4 linked regions of the Homo sapiens genome follow. The protein of the gene in region 3 interacts with the protein of the main gene of each other region in a biochemical or structural test. Each region holds a gene or a part of one and is shown on either strand. Other genes may lie near its edges.

Region 1 (3,500 bases), 8.5 Mb from region 3:
GGAGAAACCCCGTCTCTACTAAAAATACAAAATTAGCCTGGCGTGGTGGCACATGTCTATAATCCCAGCTACTCGGGAGGCTGAGGCAGGAGAATAGCTTGAACCCGGGAGGTGGAGGTTGCAGTGAGCTGAGATCACGCCATTACACTCCAGCCTGGGCAACAAGAGCTAAACTCCGTCTCAAAAATAAATAAATAAATAAGTAATATATAGTTAGAAATTGAAATAGCTATTCCATGACCATCTACTTGAGCTTTCGTAGATTTTAAACTTTCCTTCCATAGCTTTTTTTTTTCCAAAAGTATTCATAATTACCAAAAATGCTTCCCAGTTACAGGTTTAATACGTGTATTCAATCACTGACAATTCTGTAATTTGCAACTTGCTTATCACTAGCAAGGAGCAGTTAGAGTTCATTCGACCCTGAGAACTTAGTAAGAGAAGATAAAGAACAGTGGAATTAATAAAAATCTTAATGTATAGGGCCAGCCTCAAAGGTTATAAGCGCTTGTATATTAGTAAGTGAGGCAAAAAAAAAAAAAAAAAAAAAGACAACACACAGCTTGAACTCCCCATCTCACACCTAGCATAATTTGACACAATAGGGCTTAGTTTAAAAACTGAACCAACAAATGAAACCTGCAATGTAAGTACATCCATATAACCTGGAAGGAGGGGAAGTGGCAAAACGGTATGGCCTCATTTGAGTTTATCAACAAGTTTATTACAATTAATACAGAATGATTACAGTTAATTACAATTAACACAGAGGGTCCAGATAAGATGAGAAGAGACAAATAAATTTCCAGTCCTCAACATGTATATAGTAGGCACTTGATCAATGGCTGCTGAGTGAATGAATTTTGATAGGAGTAAAGGATAAAAAGACACTGATGGGCTAGGCACAGTGGCTTATGCCCATAATGCCAGCACTTTGGGAAACTGAGGCAAGAGAATCACTTGAAGCCAGAAGTGCAAGTCCAGCCTGGACAGCATAGCAAGACCCCGTCTGTATAAAAAATGAAAAACTTAACTGGGCATAGTTGTACGCACCTGTGGTCCCAGTTACTTGGGAGGCTGAGGCAAGAGGATCACTTGAGCCCAGGAGTTTGGGCTTCAATGAGCTATGATTGCATCACTGCAATCCAGTGTGGGTGACAGAGCAAGACCTTGTCTCAAAAAAAATAAATAAATAAAAATAAAAATAAAAAAACACTGAGGGGAGGGGGTAGAGAGTTACAAGGAGAGGGAAGTAAGCATCCTTCTCCTCATCTTGCTCATTCTAACACCTGCAAAACCTGCCAGCCCCTGACAATCCCTTCTAACCAGCCATCATCTGGCATTATCTATATCTATATCTATATAGATATAGATATATAGATATATAGATTTTTTTTTTTTGAGACAGAGTCTCGCTCTGTCGCCCAGGCTGGAGGGCAGTGGCACAGTCTCGGCTCACTGCAACCTCCACCTCCCGGGTTCACGCCATTCTCCTGCCTCAGCCTCCCGAGTAGCTGGGACTACAGGCACCCACCACCAGGCCTGGCTAATTGTTTGTATTTTTAGTAGAGACAGGGTTTCACCATGTTAGCTAGGATGGTCTCGATCTCCTGACCTCCTGATCCACCCGCCTCGGCCTCCCAAAGTGCTGGGATTACAGGTGTGAGCCACCACGCCCAGCCTATATCTATATTTTTTTTTGAGACAAGGTCTCACTCTGTCACCCAGGCTGGAGTTCAAAGACACGATCTCGGCTCACTGCAACCTCCACCTTCCAGGTTCAAGCAATTCTCCTGTCTCAACCTCCCAAGTAGCTGTGACTACAGGCATGCACCACCACACCTGGCTAATTTTTCTATTTTCTGTAGAGACAGGGTTTCACCCACGTTACCCAGGCTGGTCTCAAACTCCTCAGCTCAGGTGACCTGCCAGCCTCGGCCCCTCAAAGTACTGGTATTATAGGTGTGAGCCACCACGCCCGGCCATTATCTATATTTATTAAGGATCGCTGGCCAGGTGCAGTGGCTCACACCTGTAATCTCAGCACTCTAGGAGGCCAAGGAGGGAGGATAGGTTGAGCCCCAGAGTTCAAGACCAGCCTGAGCAACATAGTGAGACCTCGTATCTACAAAAATAAAATAAATAAAATAAAAAAGATCACACAGCCCAGGTAGGTACCACTCATCTCATAGAAAGACTTACACACACATACACACACACACAAACCAGCACTTGGGGAAAAGAGCCTCAAATCAATGTCTAAAATAAGCTCCAGGGCCTATTACACATGACCCCTGTGTTGAGTGGGTTTTAAAAAATGGGAGACATAATTTGTGTCTGTAAGAGTTTACATTTCTCAGCAACAAAAAGAGGAAAAAAAACAAAGTTTTGGCCGGCTGCGGTGGCTCACACCTGTAATCCCATCACTTTGGGAGGCTGAGGCAGGTAGATCACCTGAAGTCAGGAGTTCAAAACCAGCCTGGCCAACATGGTGAAACCCCATCTCTACTAAAAATACAAAAATTACCCAGGTGTGGTGGCGCATGCCTGTAATCCCAGCTACTCAGGAGGCTGAGGCAGGAGAATCGCGTGAATCAAGGGGGCAGAAGTTGCAGTGAGGCAAGATGGTGCCACTGCACTCCAGCCTGCGCTACAAGAGTGAAACTCTGTCTCAAAGAAAAAAAAAAGAGTTTACAAACCTGAACTATCTGTCAGGAAATCACACCCGAAATCTGAATGCAGATTCTGCAAAGGCTTTACTCTTTGAGGCTAGGGACTTATGTCAAGTGAGTTTTAAAAAAAGATGCTGATGAAACAAAAAGAAAATACAATGATGCTGAATATTTTGTTTTATCTATGCATCCCCCTCCTCCAGTGATGTGGGGAAACAGTCAAGCTGGCCAGTAATTTCAGGAACTTCATCTCAAGGCTGCTATACTGAGAAAGGAGGTTTAGGCTGGGGGCAGTGGCCCATGTGTGTAACCCCAGCACTTGGGGAGAATCGCTTGAGCCCAGGAGTTCCGACCTCATCTCTATAAAAAAATCAAAAAATTAGCTGAATGTGGTGGTGCACGCCTGCAGTTCCAGCTACTCAGGAGGCTGAGGAGGGTGTATCCCTTGAGCCCAGGAGGTTGAGGCTACAGTAAGCTATCATTGCAACATTGCCCTCCAGCCTGGGTGACAGAGTGAGACCTTGTCTCAAAAAAAGAGAGGGGTGGAATTTAAACTAGGGATCCAAAGTCTAATTTCAGGGTGGGAGGGGTTTGAGGGATGAGAAATTACTTAATGGGTACAATGTATGTTATTCAGGTGCTGGTTACACTAAAAGCCCAGACTTCAATGCTGGATAATACATTCATGTAATAAAACTGCACTTGTAACCTTTAAATGTATAAAGTCTAATTTCAGTTTCTTGTATACATATAAATTTATATCTTTCTTACCTGCTACTCCAGAAAAATTATTATATTTGTTCTTGGGGAATAAGTTTATAGTTTGTT
Region 2 (3,500 bases), on a different chromosome or scaffold from region 3:
CAACAGAGCGAGACTGGCAAAAAAAAAAAAAAAAAAAAAAAAGACAGAAAGGAAAGGACTATTGTAAAGATCTATGAATACATGTTTTGCTTATTAATTCTTTTTTATTTATTTATTTTTTAAATGTAGGGGCCATGCTAATCTTCTCTGCAGCATTCCAATTTTAGTTATATGTGCTGCCAAAGTGAGCACAATTCACTTTAAAGAATGATTTGAGTGAAACCTCATTCTGGGACTTCCTGCCCATGAATCGATGGGTTTAGAAACGAAGTGTGTGATGCTCCTTTCAGACCCAGAGAGCACGTGTGAATGAATCCACCATGTTCTGTATCGTATGAGGTGTCAATAACCTCACACCGAGGAAGGCGGATGTGAAAGTCTGCTTATGCCTTCAGATCTTTTGTAGACAAAAAAGTACCTAGATGGATGGATGATGGATAGATCCCAAAATGTATCTCTTTTTTTTTTCTTTTTTTCTTTTTTTTTTTTTTTTTTTTTTGAGAGGGAGTCTCACCCTGTCACCCAGGGTAGAATGCAGTGGAGTGATCTGCGCCCACTTCAACCTTCGCCTCCCAGGTTCAAGTGATTCTCCTGCCTCAAGCTTCCCAAGTAGCTGGGACTACAGGCACCCGCCACCATGTCCAGCTAATTTTTGTATTTTCAGTAGAGACGGGGTTTCACCATATTGGCCAGGCTGGTCTCAAACTCCTGACCTTGTGATCCACCCACCTCGGCCTTCCAAAGTGCTGGGATTACAGGCGTGAGCCACCGCGCCTGGCCCCAAAATGTATTTCTAAATCTATCCAAAGAATTCTATGCTGCGTTTCATTACATTCTGTGCTATATATTGCCAGACAAAGCTTTGGATGGAGTCTTGGAGACACAGAACACATTGGAGGGGCAGAAAGCAGGAGGTGGCAGGTGATAGGCCTCCTATTGCTGCCATTTTCCAATGTAAATCTTTGCTCGAGACGTGAAACCCCTTTGCCTCTTTTCTAGACCCTGAGAGCCCTATTCCAGTACAAACCCCAGAACGTGGATGAGCTGACGCTAAGTCCTGGTGACTACATCTTTGTGGACCCCACGCAGCAGGACGAAGCCAGCGAGGGCTGGGTGATTGGGATCTCACAGCGGACGGGCTGCCGGGGCTTCCTGCCGGAAAACTACACGGATCGAGCCAGTGAGTCTGACACGTGGGTGAAGCACAGGTGAGTGCTGCCTCTGGCTGCAGCCCCGTCATCTCTCTCTGAGTTACTGTGTGAGAGTGCCCACCTGCCAACAGTGTGCTTCTAGACCATTCCATTATTGGTAAAATTGCATTCTGTATGCTGACAAAATTATTCCTGCAGGTATATAGTAAACATCTTGGTTCGTCCCTGGTTTTCTGATGATAACATTCAAAAAAGAATGAATTACTCTGCATTAGAGTAATTTGAGATGGTAATCCCCAAATTACTGCAAAATACTACTTCTTTATCACACACATAATAAATTATACTCAGAGGTCCTGAGCTTGGGTTTATTTATTCTTCTGCTCCGTGTATGAAATGTAAAGTCCTAGGTCGTATTATTAGTTTTCTATGACTGTATAATAAATTACCACTAAAACAAAGTGCAATTATTATCTTATGGTATTTATGGGTTGAGAGTCAGAGTCCAGCTTCACTGGGTCCTCAGCTCGGGGTCTCAAGGCTGTAATCAAGGTGCCTGCCAGGGCTGGGCTCCCCACTGAGGCTTCACACCCTCGCCTGAGCATACACAGTTGTTGGTGGGAGTGATTTCCTTGAAGCTGTAGGGCTCCTGGTGAGTTGCTTCTTCATCAGCTGAAGAATCTCTTAATTTTAGCACCTTTTAGCATCATCTGGTGAGGCTAAGGATTTTCAGAATCATCAGATACTGGTTCTTTTTTGTTCGATGTTCTTCCCTCAATTTATCTCTTTCCTCTCCCGCTTCACTATAAATAACATGAAGAAACCAGGTGATACACTTAACACTTTGTTTGGAAATAGCCTTAGCTATGTGACCAACATCATCGCTTACAAGTCCTGCTCTCCATGGACAATTTCATTAAACTCTCTGGCACACATGGGAAGGATCCTCCTTGCTCCGATTTCCTGGAACACCTGTCACATTCCTTTCTGAGTTCTCCCCGGAGGATTCACCTTTAGCATCCCTATTTCCTCTAGCAGTCTGTTCATGGTGATTTGGGCTTTCTCTGCTGTGCTACTCAAAAGTCTCTTAGCCTCTACTCGCTGCCAAGTCCCAAAGTTGTTTCCACATTTTAAGTTCAGAAGGTTTCCAACTTACAATGGTTTGGCTTAGGATTTCATAATGTTACGAAAGTGATATGGGTTCAATAGAAACTGTACTTCAAGTGCCCATACAATCATTCTGTGCTACATTTTCAGTACAACATTCAACGAATTACATGAGATACTCAACACTTGATTATAAAATCGGCTTTGTGTTAGATTATTCCGCCCTATCATAGGCTACTGTAAGTGTTCTGAGCGTGTTTAAGGTAAGCTAGGCCAAGCTGTGATGTTCAGTAGGTTAGGTGCATTAAATGCATTTTCAATTTATGATGGGTTTGTTGGAACATAACCCCATCTGAAGTTGAAGAACATCCACTGTTTGTTAGAGTAGCACCCCATTCCTGATACCAAATTTAGTAAAAGTTTAACCAGAGATGCAGAACCAGTCACTTTCATACAATATATAATACATATAAGTATATGTACAGTTGTCCCTTGCTATCTGCAAGGGATTGGTTCCCGGACCCCCACAGATACCCAAATCCTCATGTTCTCGAGTCCCCGATATAAAATGCTGTAGTATTTACATGCAACTTATGCACATCACCCTGTATCCTTTAAATCATCTCTAGATTACTTGTGATATGTAATACAGTATAAATACTATGCAAATAGTTGTTATACGGTATTGTTTTTTATTTGTATTTTTTAAATTGTATTGCTATTTTTTAATTGATTAATCTTTTGAATATTTTTGGCCTGCAGTTGGTTGAATCCACAAATGCAGAACCTCCAGATACAAAGGGCTGACTATACATACATAGTATTTTATATTATATACACATGTATCACACACATATATATATGGAAAGGTATATATGTATACACACATCTATATTGATTTACTACAATGAATTGCCTTATGGAATTACTGGGGCTAGCTAAGCAAGGGCAGACAGGCAGGAAGGGAGGAGCCTACTTAGGCTGAAAACCCATGGGCAAGCTGAAGCTTGTTGTCCACATGTGGCAGTTGGAAGGACCACCCGGGTGATGGGAGAGCAGTCACAGACACAGCTGCTATTGAAGTCTCTGAGTGTGAGGAAAGCCTAAGTTTTTAAAAAAAAATGCCTTCCAACTGCATAAGTCAGACCTGCTCAGAATAACCTTGCTTTTGATTAATTTAAGCTCAACTGATTAGGGGTTCTAGTCACATTTGTAAAATCTCCTTCCAGCAGCACCTAGACT
Region 3 (3,500 bases):
GCCCCTTACCCAATCTTTGTTTTGGAGATAATACCAGCTTCAATACAAAGAGTAAAATTGCCTTAAATGTCTACCACTGTCTACTATAAGGTAGACAACAAGTTTACGAAGGGATTTCTCCTACATTTGATTGAGAAAGAAAAGGTCTTTGACTCATGATTTTCTGATTTTATTGTATTTGATATGTAAATGGGAATTTTCTTAATGTGTTATGCATAGTCTTTACTTTTGCATTGGATTATATGCTTAGCCTAATATCTGAATTTATTTTACATTTTTAAATGTAATAGCTGCACGAGGTTAATGACAACATTCCTCAAGTGAGTTAAGTCCATTTCAAATCACGTCCCCCACACCCCCAAGCATTAAATTATGGGTATCCAGATAGAATGTCTCATAAAGTAGACGGTACAGGACCTGTGAATTAACAGTATTTGAACTCAAGGGCCTATACCTGGAGGTATAGTGAGTCTTTGGTACTCTTTATTTTCAAGAAATATAGTATTTCAAGTTTATGTTTTAATGTCACAGCAATGATCTTGAAAATGACTTCTCCCCTACTTTTATTCTCTCTTCTTTCACCTGGAGTATGTTTCTGATATGCTATCTAGTCATCATCCTTTTTTCCCAAGGCCTAGCTTAAGGATTCTTTTTTTTTTTCCCCCGAGACAGAGTCTTGCTCTGTCACCCAGGCTGGAGTACAGTGGCGCAATCTCTGCTCACTGCAACCTCCGCCTCCTGGGTTCAAGTAATTCTCCTGTCTTAGCCTCCTGAGTAGCTGGGATTACAGGCACCTGTCAGCACACCCGCTAATTTTTGTATTTTTAGTAGAGACGGTGTTTCACCATGTTGGCCAGGCTGGTCTCGAACTCCTGACCTCATGATCCGCCCTCTGCGGCCTCCCAAAGTGCTGGGATTACAGGCGTGGGCCACTGCGCCTGGCCAGGATTATTATTCTTAAAGCCTTTTCTCACAAATGTAGTCTCCATTGTTGTCACAATTCTAAAATTCCATATATGTCTTTTAACTATAAATTTCATGCAGAGAATAGTGTTCTGTTTATCTGATATCCCATTGCAATAGTACAAGGGCCATTTAAAACATGTCCACCTATTAATTTCAGGAAATGATTAATAGGAAGTTACCTTGCATCCAACAAACATGAAGACTTACTATGTCCATGCACTGATGGTCACAGGTAGACATAACTCCTGTCTTTTCTAACATTTAGACTAGTGAAAATGACAAATCAAAGCCAGGCATGGTGACTCACTCCTGTTGTCACTCAGGAGGCTGATGCAGGAGTATCAGTTGATTCCAAGAGTTCGAGGCTGTAGTGTGCTGTAATGGCATTGCACTCTAGCTCTAGCCTGGGTAACATAGCCAGACTCCGTCTCTTTTTTATTTAAAAAAGAGGAAAAAAAGCAAGTCATAATCCGAGCCCTACATAGATAATGGGTACACCAGGATAGGGAAGGATGTGGTTCCTCCCTGTCCTCAGAGCTTTAAACTAGAGAAGAGAGAATAATCACAACCAACAGTAAAAAGCTAAGGATTTTGAAGGTATATTCAAAATGCATTTGGAACTGAGCTCAGATAAAGTTAATTTTTCTTGGAATCATTGGCGAAGGCATCGTGGAGAAGGTATTATTATTGGAGCACAATCCAGAGGCTACATAGATTTTTCTGAACTTGGGGAGGCAGAGCTACAATTACGGTAGTAAGAATAAACTAAGAGGGAACAAACAGGACATTAAATCAGTTCGTCTGTTCAGCAGTGCTCCAGGTACTTGGGACTCATCAGTAAATAAAATAGTTCCCTTCATTTCATTTTTCATCTAACCGTGTCCACTTGCTCCCCACCCCACCTCCCCGTTAAAAGGGAGCAATACAGGCTGGGCACATGGCTCACGTGTGTAATCTCAACACTTTGGGAGGCTGAGGTGAGAGGATCACTTGAGGCCAAGAGTTCAAGACTAGCCTGTGCAATATAGTGATACCCTGTCTCTATAAAAACTAAATAAGGAAACAGTGCAGTCATCCCTTTTTGTCCATGGGGTGTTGGTTCCAGAACATCCCATGGATACCAAAATCCACACATAGTCAAGTCCCTTAGGTAAAGTCGTGCCGTATTTGCATATAACCTATGCACATCTTCCCATGTACTTTAAATAATCTATAGATTACTTTTAATACCTAATGCAATTTAAGTGCTATGTAAATAGCTATTATACTGTATTGGGTTTTTTATTTTTTTCTTGTTTTGCCCTTTCTAATATTTTCAATCCGAGGTTGATTGACTCTGCAGATAAAGTAGACTGGAAAAGTACAGTCGTCCTTAGGTGTATGAGGGAGATTGGTTCTAGGACCCCTGCCAAAATCCACAAATATTCTAGTCCCCCAGTCTGCCCTGTGGAACCCGTGTATATGAAGAGTGGGAGCTCTGTGTGTGTGGATTCCACATCCCAAGAATACGGTATTTTCTATCTGAGTTTGGTTGCTGAACCTGCACATACGGAGGGCGGACTGTATTTATTGGAAAAAAAATAGCATATAAGTTCAAACCTGTGGTGTTCAAGTGTCAATAGTACATTTTGATTTTTTTTTTTTACCAAGAGTTGTTCTGTGTAATTATGAAAGAATAAGGGAAACGTATGAACCCTAAAATTGGATATGTTTTGTTAATGTTCATTTTTATCTCTTAACAGTTACTATGCGAGTCAGAAGAAAACATTTGAAATTAATCCCAGACACCCGCTGATCAGAGACATGCTTCGACGAATTAAGGTAGTATTAAAGCAGTCCTCTTGCTTGTCTTTTAATTTGAGTACTTTGTATCTTTTAATATTAATCTAGTGCATCTTCTTGCATTTCAGGAAGATGAAGATGATAAAACAGTTTTGGATCTTGCTGTGGTTTTGTTTGAAACAGCAACGCTTCGGTCAGGGTATCTTTTACCAGACACTAAAGCATATGGAGATAGAATAGAAAGAATGCTTCGCCTCAGTTTGAACATTGACCCTGATGCAAAGGTTTGTATCCCCAACCTTCCCGCAAAGGCTGGCTGGCTTTCTTTGTTTCTGTTCTTTCAGAATAGGCCTCTCATGATTGAGGGATGTAGCTTTGCGACATTTGCCTAATTTCTACCTTTTGAAAGAATTTTATTGAATGTTTGAATCCCTGTAGTGTCAGGCACTGCACTAGAAACTAAGTCCTCCTTTTACGTCCTCTTTCCTTTTTGCCTGCCTCCTTTTGTTAGCTTGGCTGTTCATTCTAGTTAAGAGGATTTAGTCTGTGGTTCTGAATAAACAGAAGTGACATTAATTATGATTTTATACATATAAATGAGCAAAGTGGAAATAAATCCAAGGCATTAATGGGCCCATAAATGTTGTGTTTAGGTGGAAGAAGAGCCCGAAGAAGAACCTGAAGAGACAGCAGAAGACACAACAGAAGACACAGAGCAAGACGAAGATGAAGAAATGGATGTGGGAACAGAT
Region 4 (3,500 bases), on a different chromosome or scaffold from region 3:
ACAGGCGTGAGCCACCACACCTAGCCATCTTTTTCTTATGACAGTATCACTCTTTTGCCTAGGCTGAAGTGTAGTGGTGCAATCAGGGTTCACTGCAGCCTCAACCTCCCAGGCTCGAGTGATCCTTCCACCTTGGCCTCTCGAGTAGCTGGGACTATAAGCGCACGCCCCCAAGTCTGGGTAATCTTTTTTTTTTTTTTTTTTGAGACAGAGTCTTGCTCTGTTGCCCAGGCTGGAGTGCAGTGGCACAATCTTGGCTCACTGCAAGCTCTGCCTCCCGGGTTCACGCCATTCTCCTGCCTCTGCCTCCCGAGTAGCTGGGACTACAAGCGCCCGCCACCATGCCCAGCTAATTTTTTGTATTTTTAGTAGAGATGGGGTTTCACTGTGTTAGCCAGGATGGCCTCGATCTCCTGACCTCGTGATCCACCTACCTTGGCCTCCCAAAGTGCTGGGATTATAGGCGTGAGCCACTGCACCCGGTTAAGCCTGGCTAATTTTATTTTGTAGAGATAGGGTTTTGCCATGTTGCTCAGGTTGGTCTTGAACTCCTGGGCAAGCACTCCACCTGCCTCGGCCCCTGAAAGTGCTGGGATTACTGGTGTGACTGTGCCCCATCCTCTTTTATGTTTATCCAACTTAGATCCCTTTAGCTGCAACTGAGGCCCCTCCCTTTTGTGTTTTTTTTTGAGATAGGAGTCTCACCACCACACCCTGCTAATCCTTATATTTTTAGTAGAGATGGGGTTTCATCATGTTGGTCAGGCTGGTCTGGAACTCCTGACCTCAGGTGATCCAACTGCCTCAGCCTCCCAAAGTACTGGGATTACAGGCATGAGCCACTGTGCCCGGCCTGGCCCCTCCCCACTTTTTTTTTTTTTTTGAGACAGAGTCTCGCTGTCGCCCAGGCTGGAGTACAGTGGTGCAATCTCGGCTCACTGCAGGCTCCGCCTCCCGGGTTCACACCATTCTCCTGCCTCAGCCTCCCGAGTAGCTGGGACTACAGGCGCCCACCACCATGCCTGGCTAATTTTTTGTATTGTTTAGTAGAGACAGGGTTTCACCGTGTTAGCCAGGATGGTCTCGATCTCCTGACCTCATGATCCGCCCGCCTCAGCCTCCCAAAGTGCTGGGATTACAGGAGTGAGCCACCGCGCCCGGCCAGCCCCTCCCTTTTTTTAAAAAAGGAGATGGGGTCTTGCTATGTTGCCCAGGCTGGCCTCGAACTCCTGGGCTCAAGAAATCCTCCCAAATTAGCCTCTGATGTAGCTGGCACTATACGTACGTGCCACCATGCCTGTCTGCCATTTTGTTTTGACCCAGCGACCATAAGAAGTTTCTTTTTTTTTTTTTTTGAGACGGAGTCTCGCTCTTTCGCCCAGGCTGGAGTGCAATGCTGCTATCTTGGCTCACTGCAAGCTCCATCTCCTGGGTTCACGCCATTCTCCTGTCTCAGCCTCCTGAGTGGCTGGGACTACAGGTGGCCGCCACCGTGCCTGGCTAATTTTTTGTATTTTTAGTAGAGACGGGGTTTCACCGTGTTAGCCAGGATGGTCTCGATCTCCTGACCTCATGATCCGCCCGCCTCGGCCTCCCAAAGTGCTGGGATTACAGGCGTGAGCTACTGCGCCCGGCCGACCATAAGAAGTTTCTAAGTCAGCCTTTTTTTTTCCTTTTCTGAGATGAAGTCTCATTCTGTCACCCAGGCTGCAGTGCAGTGGTATGATCTCGGCTCACTGCAAACTCCGCCTCCTCGGTTCAAGTCATTCTCCTGCCTCAGCCTCTCGAGTAGCTAGGATTACAGGCGTATGCCACCACAACTGGCTAATTTTTGTATTTTTAGTAGAGACGGGGGTTCACCATCTTGGCCAGGCTGGTCTCGAACCCCTGATCTCAGATGAACCGCCCACCTTGGCCCCCAAAGTGCTAGGATTATAGGCGTGAGCCACCGTGCCCAGCTATGTCAGCCTTCTCAGAAGGGACTTCATGCTAAACCTGTGTGTTTCCCGTCCGTCTTCCTTCTTTGTGTACTTGTTTGGTGAGAGAATGATCTAGAACACCCTCATTTCTGATTCCCTTCTAGGCACCGAGATCATTCAACCAAGGAAATCCACTGAGCAGGATAATGCTGCAGCACACACCTCGCTTAGTTCAGGGAAATTGTCCTGCTGACAGAAGGGGCACTGCCACAGCCCTGTCTCATCATTGCGGATCGCCTGGTCATAGCTCTCACCCTGGGGACGCCTGTGGGCAATGCCAGTGACATTGCAGATGATGAGCTTTCCTGCAAGAAGGAAAAGAGGATGGGGAGCAGGCTCAGAGAATGTGGAGAGCACTTCTTTCCACCAGCCTTTCAGTGACAGAATATCTGACTTCCTTCCCATCCTTGAAGAGGGAACTCTTCCCGATTTTTATTTATTTATTTATTTTTGAGATGAAGTCTTGCTCTGTTGCCCAGGCTGCAGTGCAGTGGTGCTATCTTGGCTGACTGTAACCTCTGCCTCCCAGGTTCAAGGAATCCTCCTGCCTCAGCCTCCCGAGTAGCTGGGATTACAGGTGCCCACCACCACGCTCAGCTAATTTTTTATTTTTAGTGGAGATGGGGTTTCACCATGTTGCCCAGACTGGTCTCGAACTCCTGGCCTCAAGCAGTCTGCCTGCCCTGGCCTCCCAAAGTGCTGGGATTACAGGCATGAGCCACTGTGCCTGGCCGTTCCCCTGATTTGATGATAGGGGAAAATAAAGCCTATAAGAAGACTAACTGCATGAAGATTCCATAGCACACTGGAAGCACATTTGACCTTAAATTCAGTTTTGATTTCCAGTCCAGGACTCTTTAGTCTTTTAAAATGCTCTCCTGGCCTTCCCCATGTACAACACAAACCTGCCTCAATCTGTTGGAACTGCTGCTTGGTTTGAATGTACACAGTAAACACACCTCCTGCCCCCAATAAAAAAATGACCCCAGAATTTACCAATGTAGAAGGTCTCTGGTGTTTCTTTGGTTAACATATTGAAGATCTCCTCTGTGTTGGGAGAGCGGTAGGCTGTCCGGAGGTCCTTATATCGACAGCTCAGCTCTGCCCGGATGTCATAGAGTGTGATGTGTTTGTCACCATAGCCCTGGGGAAGAAGCCCATCAAGAAGAGCCTTGCAGCTGCCCCCCAACCTGAGCCTCAAGGAGTCCCGTGGAAGGGGCGGGCCTCTCCAGATGGGAGTAAGTTTCTGTCAGGGCTTCTTCTTTTCTTTCCATCAACATTTACTAAAGGTGGTTTTCAAACTTAGCCATGAAACACTGTAATCAAAATGCTTTATGGAACCCCAATGAGTCCACAGATAAATGCAAAGCTGTGCTGTTAGAAAGGAGGAAAGGGGGCCTAGACGGAAACTGTAGTACTGACATCCTCCCAACTCCCTCCTGCCCCTTGTAATTATGGTGGCAATCTCTGAGACTTCCCTGGCTCCTTAACAAGCAGACCAAAAACTTCCTTGAGGAGCCC

Evidence for each region. Proteins that work in one complex are often made in the same cells at the same time.
Region 1: the proteins of HSP90B1 (region 3) and PTPN11 form a complex in vitro, tested with the Homo sapiens proteins (one large-scale study listed by BioGRID).
Region 2: the proteins of HSP90B1 (region 3) and UBASH3A form a complex in vitro, tested with the Homo sapiens proteins (one large-scale study listed by BioGRID).
Region 4: the proteins of HSP90B1 (region 3) and SUPT6H form a complex in vitro, tested with the Homo sapiens proteins (one large-scale study listed by BioGRID).

The regions. Positions count from the first base shown.
Region 1 is NC_000012.12:112,425,447-112,428,946, reverse strand, and holds part of PTPN11 (tyrosine-protein phosphatase non-receptor type 11), read right to left. Parts: intron 1-3,500. UniProt on the Homo sapiens protein: Acts downstream of various receptor and cytoplasmic protein tyrosine kinases to participate in the signal transduction from the cell surface to the nucleus. Positively regulates MAPK signal transduction pathway. Dephosphorylates GAB1, ARHGAP35 and EGFR.
Region 2 is NC_000021.9:42,417,402-42,420,901, forward strand, and holds part of UBASH3A (ubiquitin-associated and SH3 domain-containing protein A), read left to right. Parts: intron 1-999; coding exon 1,000-1,208; intron 1,209-3,500. UniProt on the Homo sapiens protein: Interferes with CBL-mediated down-regulation and degradation of receptor-type tyrosine kinases. Promotes accumulation of activated target receptors, such as T-cell receptors, EGFR and PDGFRB, on the cell surface.
Region 3 is NC_000012.12:103,943,910-103,947,409, forward strand, and holds part of HSP90B1 (endoplasmin precursor), read left to right. Parts: intron 1-2,708; coding exon 2,709-2,787; intron 2,788-2,876; coding exon 2,877-3,032; intron 3,033-3,401; coding exon 3,402-3,500.
Region 4 is NC_000017.11:28,689,705-28,693,204, reverse strand, and holds part of SUPT6H (transcription elongation factor SPT6), read right to left. Parts: intron 3,124-3,500; coding exon 2,976-3,123; intron 2,285-2,975; coding exon 2,142-2,284; intron 1-2,141.